Homo sapiens: one gene and its partner. The protein of the gene in region 1 interacts with the protein of each later gene in a biochemical or structural test. Each region holds a gene or a part of one and is shown in the gene's direction. Other genes may lie near its edges.

Region 1 (3,744 bases):
ATCTAGAACTCCAGCATGTCGGAAGAAGAGCTGACCAAGGCCATGGAGGGGCTAGGCATGGACGAAGGGGATGGGGAAGGGAACATCCTCCCCATCATGCAGAGTATTATGCAGAACCTACTCTCCAAGGATGTGCTGTACCCATCACTGAAGGAGATCACAGAAAAGGTTTGTGAACTTCCATTTCTGCTTTTTCTCTTCATTTTCCATCACATCAACTGATGTGGGCTATTTTGTCTACTCAGAGCCTGCAGAAAGAGTAACTCGAGTGTGCTTTTTTTCCTTCTTTATTTATTTGAGGCAGGGAGAGTTGGGGGTTGGGGAGAGTTGTGTCTCTGAGAGAATAAAGCTGTCACACGGTATGTTGGGGTATAAGAGGTATAACGTTTGGGGTCTAAGAGGAAATCCTTCAGTTCTAGTTTTCTATAAACTGGTTCAAGACTCTGGGATTGTTGTCTGATCAATCTTGCATTTCTGACTTCATTTCTCCAGCAAGAATTTGGCTGGGCATGGTGGCTCATGCCTGTAATCCCAGCACCTTGGGAGGCCGAGGCGGGTGGATCACCTGAGGTCAGGAGTTCGAGACCAGCCTGGCCAACATGGTGAAACCCCGTCTGTAGTAAAAATACAAAAATTATCCTGGCGTAGTGGCTCACGCCTGTGATCGCAACTACTCAGGAGGCAGCAGGAGAATCACTTGAACCTGGGAGGCAGAGGTTGCAGTGAGCTGAGATTGTGCCACTGTACTCCGGCCTGGGTGACAGAGCAAGACTCCATCTGAAAAAGAAAAAGAATTAACTGAGGATTTACTTACTGGCTTTGTGATGTGAACAGTGTAAGCGTAGTTTAAATGATGGTCCCTGCCATAAAAGAGCTTATATGTGTGGTTGTATCATTTTGTTTTGAGACAGGGTCTAGCTCCAGTTGGAGCACAGTGGCACGATCTTGGCTCACCACAGCCTCCCCATCCCAGGCTCAAGTGTTTCTCCCATCTCAGCCTCCTGAGTGGCTGGGACTACAGGTGTGTGCCACCATGCTTGGCCAATGTTTTCAAAATTTTTTGTAGAGTTGAGCTCTCACTATATTGCTCAGGCTGGTCTCAAACTCCTGAGCTCAAGTGATCCTCCCACCTCAGCCTCCCAAAATGCTGGGATTACAAGTGTGAGCCACCACACCTGGCTAAAGAGTGTATAGTTTTACTGGAGAGATAAAATACAGGAATAGAAGCTTTTCAGTGACATGGGGAAATGTGGGTAAGTGTGTAATGAATAGTACAGACCACGAGTCAGCAGGCCAAGACCTGGGTGGGACAAATCCAACTCTCTAGCAAATAATGGTTTTTACATTTTTAAGGTCATTTGAAAAAAACTACAAAGAAAATGTGCAATAGCCGAGCGTAGTGGCTCACTCCTATAGTCCCAGCGCTTTGGGAGGCCACGGTGGACAGATTGCTTGAGCCCAGGAGTTTAAGACCAGCTTGAGCAACATGATGAAACCCTGTCTCTACAAAATACAAAAAAATTAGCCAGTCACAGTGGTGCACACTTGTAGACCCAGCTACTTGGGGAGGCTCAGGTGGGAGGATTGCTTGAGCCTGGGGAGATCGAGGCTGCAGTGAGTGGTGATCACACCATCACACTCCAGCCTGGGTGACAGAGTAAAACTCTGTCTCGAAAAAAAAGAAAAAAAAAACACAATAGAGACCATATGTGGCCCTTGAAGCCTAAAATATTCACTGTCTGGCCCTTTACAGAAGCTTACCAATCTCTGGTGACCATAAATGCTAACATGGCCAGGTGATCTGGTTGGAGTCAGTGCCGCTTTTCATGATGAACTTACTTATTTAGCTTTTCGTTTTTCTACGTCCCTTTCCCTTTCACATTTTAATCACATTGTTCTGATTACCCATCCATATCCATTGTTCACTTAATTCTTTTCCACCCATTCTCTCTTTTCTTAGTATCCAGAATGGTTGCAGAGTCATCGGGAATCTCTACCTCCAGAGCAGTTTGAAAAATATCAGGAGCAGCACAGCGTCATGTGCAAAATATGTGAGCAGTTTGAGGCAGAGACCCCCACAGACAGTGAAACCACTCAAAAGGCTCGTTTTGAGATGGTGCTGGATCTTATGCAGCAGGTAAGGCCTCTTGCCTTCTGCCCACTGGTGCTGTCCACTTAGGTGTTCAGTGAAGGAAGTATCTGGGAAGGATGCAATACTGCTAGACCTAGGTGGAGGAGGGATCCTCTCTTGTGATCTCTCTCAGAAGAAATAGAGAGATCATTCATTAGATTCCTCTTCTGGATCCTCTGTTGTTTTCTGGGCTTTTCTCTATTTCATGTTCCATTTTCCTTATTTTCTAGCTACAAGATTTAGGCCATCCTCCAAAAGAGCTGGCTGGAGAGATGGTGAGTATGTCTTATTTTTCCAGATTTTAATTTGAGTCCCCAATTTCCAGAATTCTTTAACCTCTCAGGATTCCACCTAAGGTGAAAATTGTGGCTACTGGGGATGGATCTTCACGTCTGTCCTAAAAAATGAGCAACTATCTGAGTCCCTTCATCTCTTCCCCAGCCTCCTGGCCTCAACTTTGACCTGGATGCCCTCAATCTTTCGGGCCCACCAGGTGCCAGTGGTGAACAGTGTCTGATCATGTGAAACACAACACGTTTTCCTCTCTGAGTCCCAGCTATGGGGAACATCTGGAGTCAGCAGAACCATTGGGACCTGAGGCAGGAGTGTCACCTGCGGGAGAAGTCTGCCCGCTGCCCTCTGTCATCCCATTCAAGATTGTGCCATACCAGCTGAGGTTTTTCCTCTGTCTCTCTAGGAATAGGGTCTGTTTCACAGGCCATTTCTGTGAACCCTACTCCATTGTGGTTTCTGCCACTATCAAAGTTCCAGCTACCTGCAAGGTGAAGGAAGGCATCCCTTTTGGGGCATGCACTTTCTTTCCTTTCTCAAAATAATGTTATATGTGGCCACACTGATGTTCACCTTTACGTCCAGGGTCTTTGTGCCTTGTCTCTACTCCCTCTCTTGGATCTGGGGAGGAGGGGCAGAGACCTGGGACTCTGTATTTCTATAGTTCTCCTGGCAGAGCCTTTGAGAATGGGGAGAAACAGCCTGGGCTGGGGCTACAGGTCTGTCACTATGCTCTCTTGCCTTCAGACAGACCATTCTGAATTCTCTAAAGGGAAAGGGCTTTTGCATCTAATCACAATAGAGTTGAAAGAGAGGCCTTAGGATTCTCCTCTCTCTAGGTGCTGAGCCCTCACCTCCCTGTTCCAGGCTGAGAACTCAAATGGTTACCCTGCTTCTTCCTACAATGCTGTGTGATATGGGTGAACCCAGCCCCTGACCTTCCTCTATCCCCTGCCCATCCTCCCTTTTACCTCCTCTCTTTTTTAAACACCTGTTTATCCCAACCTTTTTGAGCTCAAGCTGTGATAAAGAAGGGCCCATCCTATTTCCCCTCATCTAGTCCATTTACGATTCTCACTGACTCCCCGTCTTCCTGGCAGACACAAATAAACCCAGTGTCAGGTCTAGGAAATTAATGGCTATTCTTCCCCAGATACATTCTGGCTTATTTGAGATACATGATTCTCTTAGAATCCTGTCCCTTGGTTCAGGAAAGTAGCTTGGAAAAGGAGTAGGGGTATAGCTTGGGTCCCTTTTCCTGCAAGGCCCCATGGGGCAGAATATAATAAATATTCTGAGTGAGGAGTGTGGTCTTTTTCTGA
Region 2 (3,744 bases), on another chromosome or scaffold:
CAGTCCCAGGGCTAGGGCACAGGCACCCTCCTGCCTAACTCGCCTGCTTGCTCCATAGGCCATACCTTTTAGGAGAAATGAAGGGAATGCAGAGAAGCAACACAACAAAGACCTCCGCATAGAGGAAGGTGGCAACTGCAGTCCACTGCAGACTCATCCTGTTGCTAGAAGGTTTCCCACAGGAAGATGTGAGCTTGTTTCCTGGCAGGGCACAAAAGGTACGGGACTTGTAAGCGCTGGGCAGCCAAGAACATCCAGTTCAGTTACCCTGCGAGGCTGGGGCCGCCACTCTCCACCCTGACCCCCTGCACTTTGCTTCAAAGTCTCTGATGCGCTGGCGGAAGCAGGGCTCCACTCGGCAGGGCCTCTTGGCCAGCAGCGTTCACAGGCCCCACAAACTTCCGTTCGCTGGTCAATTACCTGCCCCCTCCAGCACGTGTGTCAACACGTCCAGAGCGGCCTCTCCCGACGATCCCTGCCCCAGGAAGCCCGAGATTTCCGACGCCCGTTTAACTGAAAGGCGTTCTTCGGGAAGAGCAGTGCCAGGGCACCAAGAGGAGGACGCCTCGGCACCCATCGGGCGCTCCCTTCCCCGCCAGGCAGAACTCAGCCGCAGAGGCGGGCGCTCTGCGGGCCCAAATCCCCGCTACCAGGCAGGCCCAAGGCCGCACCTAGTCCAAGCGCTGCCGACGCCCCCGCCTCCCACCGTCCCCACGGCGCCCGCGGAGAGAAACCGGCACCTCCCTCGAGGATCCAGCGGCCTTCCGCCCGGGGCCGCTTCGCCTCCGGTGGGCTGGAGGCCCGCAAGAGCGACTCCTAGAGGGCAGGATTCGGGACCAAGCGCAAAGGCAGGTCTCGACCAAGCACCTCAAGGCCCCATACGGAGAAAGTTCTAGACGCAGTATCCTCAGAAGCCAGGGGTCCTTACAGTAGCCCTCGCGGGCCCCAGCGCCCACCCAGAGCGAGGGGCCTCCGACTTGGCCCCGGCCTGGCACACCGTCCCGGAGGCCCATCCCGGCCGCTCCTCCAGGTGGGGCTTCACCGCCCCCCGCCCCGCCCCCGAGACCAGCTTCTAGAGGCGCCGCCCGGTTTCCCCTCGCCCCTGCCTCTCACACGCAGGTAGGCTGCGGGCCCCGAGATTCCCCGGCCCCCGGGCCTCCCCGCGCCGCTCGCCTCTCTCCCTCGTCGATGGGCCGGGGAGCCTCCGCGGTCCCGGAGCCCAGCCCGGCGCGCGGAGCCCGCTCACCGAGTTTCCCACAGTCAACGTGCAGGCCCCGCCGCAGCAACAGAACTCTCCCACAGCAGCCCCGGCCCCGCCCCTCATACCGCGGCCGGAAACCGGAAGCGCCCGCCGGGCACCGCCCACCAGCCCTCGCGAGGCCCCGGAGGCTCCGCCCACCTCCGCTTCCCACCCCGCCCCGGAGCGGAGGGCCGGCGCTCCGAGCGGGAGAGGAAGAGGCGCCTCGGGCTCCGGGCGAGCAGGGCGGGGTGGAGCGAGCACGCGGGCGGGGCGGGGCGGGGCTTTGTCGGGCCGGCGAGGGCCGCTTCTCTAGTCCGCGCGGCCGTCCCACGTCTCTGTGGTGCGGGAGGGGCCCCGCCGAGGGGCGAGAACGGGAGGTGGGGGTGTGGGCGGGCCCCGCCGAGGGGCGAGAACAGGGTGGGGCTCCCGCGCCCGGACTCCGCCCCTCGCCCCTCCTCCGCCTCCTCCCCTTCCCCCGACTCGCCCCTGGGGAAGAGTGGGTGGGGATTCTGGGCCGGTGGAGGAGTCACTGTCGCTTCAGCCAGGCTGCGGAGCGGACGGACGCGCCTGGTGCCCCGGGGAGGGGCGCCACCGGGGGAGGAGGAGGAGGAGAAGGTGGAGAGGAAGAGACGCCCCCTCTGCCCGAGACCTCTCAAGGCCCTGACCTCAGGGGCCAGGGCACTGACAGGACAGGAGAGCCAAGTTCCTCCACTTGGGCTGCCCGAAGAGGCCGCGACCCTGGAGGGCCCTGAGCCCACCGCACCAGGGGCCCCAGCACCACCCCGGGGGCCTAAAGCGACAGTCTCAGGGGCCATCGCAAGGTTTCCAGTTGCCTAGACAACAGGCCCAGGGTCAGAGCAACAATCCTTCCAGCCACCTGCCTCAACTGCTGCCCCAGGCACCAGCCCCAGTCCCTACGCGGCAGCCAGCCCAGGTGACATGCCGGTGCTCTCCAGGCCCCGGCCCTGGCGGGGGAACACGCTGAAGCGCACGGCCGTGCTCCTGGCCCTCGCGGCCTATGGAGCCCACAAAGTCTACCCCTTGGTGCGCCAGTGCCTGGCCCCGGCCAGGGGTCTTCAGGCGCCCGCCGGGGAGCCCACGCAGGAGGCCTCCGGGGTCGCGGCGGCCAAAGCTGGCATGAACCGGGTATTCCTGCAGCGGCTCCTGTGGCTCCTGCGGCTGCTGTTCCCCCGGGTCCTGTGCCGGGAGACGGGGCTGCTGGCCCTGCACTCGGCCGCCTTGGTGAGCCGCACCTTCCTGTCGGTGTATGTGGCCCGCCTGGACGGAAGGCTGGCCCGCTGCATCGTCCGCAAGGACCCGCGGGCTTTTGGCTGGCAGCTGCTGCAGTGGCTCCTCATCGCCCTCCCTGCTACCTTCGTCAACAGTGCCATCCGTTACCTGGAGGGCCAACTGGCCCTGTCGTTCCGCAGCCGTCTGGTGGCCCACGCCTACCGCCTCTACTTCTCCCAGCAGACCTACTACCGGGTCAGCAACATGGACGGGCGGCTTCGCAACCCTGACCAGTCTCTGACGGAGGACGTGGTGGCCTTTGCGGCCTCTGTGGCCCACCTCTACTCCAACCTGACCAAGCCACTCCTGGACGTGGCTGTGACTTCCTACACCCTGCTTCGGGCGGCCCGCTCCCGTGGAGCCGGCACAGCCTGGCCCTCGGCCATCGCCGGCCTCGTGGTGTTCCTCACGGCCAACGTGCTGCGGGCCTTCTCGCCCAAGTTCGGGGAGCTGGTGGCAGAGGAGGCGCGGCGGAAGGGGGAGCTGCGCTACATGCACTCGCGTGTGGTGGCCAACTCGGAGGAGATCGCCTTCTATGGGGGCCATGAGGTGGGGCAGGTTGGGGTGCCGGGCACGGAGGGAAGCGTGTGGCAGGGAGGCCCGGGGGCAGGCAGCCGTGAGCGGTGGGGACAGTCTGGGGCGGGCCGGGGCTGATGCCAAAGGTGTGGGCAGGCCATGGGAGAGCCGGGCTGGGGTGGGCAGGGCCTTTGGGCAGCCGTGGACTCAGGCGCGGCAGTGGAGAGGCAGGAAGGCTGGGTGGGGACTGTCCTGTGCTGGTTGCCTGCACGCTCGAGGCCACTTCTGCTTCCTCTCCTCCTCAAGGAGGTTGTCCTGGCCTTAGAGCTGCGATCCTAGCGGTTTGAGCCTCGAGAGCTCCTGCCCGCCCCACTCCTGCAGCCAGCCAGGAGGAGACGCCTGCCATTCATGAGCGGGGACCGAGGGACGCAGCCTGCTGCCTAGCCCCTCCTGGGCCCTTGGGCCCTTTGAAGGCCGGCGTCCAGCAGAGCTGGCTGGCCAGGCAGGCCGGCATTATGGGCATGACTCAGCCCAAGCGGAGGTTAATGAGCAGCGCCCAGCACAGCAGTGGGACTTGGGGTCAAGGCCACCCCCGCCTGAGCCCACAGGCCTGCCTGGCTACCAACTGGCTCAGCTGCCTTCCCGGGCCCCCAGACCAGAGATGCCGGGCCCAGGCCGCCACTGCGGCGGGACACACT

What was found. The genes of interacting proteins can lie anywhere in the genome.
Region 2: the proteins of PEX19 (region 1) and ABCD1 form a complex in vitro, tested with the Homo sapiens proteins (3 studies listed by BioGRID and IntAct, with this or other methods).

What each region holds. Positions count from the first base shown.
Region 1 is NC_000001.11:160,278,463-160,282,206, reverse strand, and holds part of PEX19 (peroxisomal biogenesis factor 19), read left to right. Parts: intron 1-6; coding exon 7-168; intron 169-1,960; coding exon 1,961-2,137; intron 2,138-2,361; coding exon 2,362-2,406; intron 2,407-2,572; coding exon 2,573-2,656; 3' UTR 2,657-3,744. UniProt on the Homo sapiens protein: Necessary for early peroxisomal biogenesis. Acts both as a cytosolic chaperone and as an import receptor for peroxisomal membrane proteins (PMPs).
Region 2 is NC_000023.11:153,723,088-153,726,831, forward strand, and holds the start of ABCD1 (ATP-binding cassette sub-family D member 1), read left to right. Parts: upstream 1-1,768; 5' UTR 1,769-2,179; coding exon 2,180-3,079; intron 3,080-3,744. Other genes in the region: BCAP31 (B-cell receptor-associated protein 31), read right to left, coding at 66-201, 421-577. UniProt on the Homo sapiens protein: ATP-dependent transporter of the ATP-binding cassette (ABC) family involved in the transport of very long chain fatty acid (VLCFA)-CoA from the cytosol to the peroxisome lumen.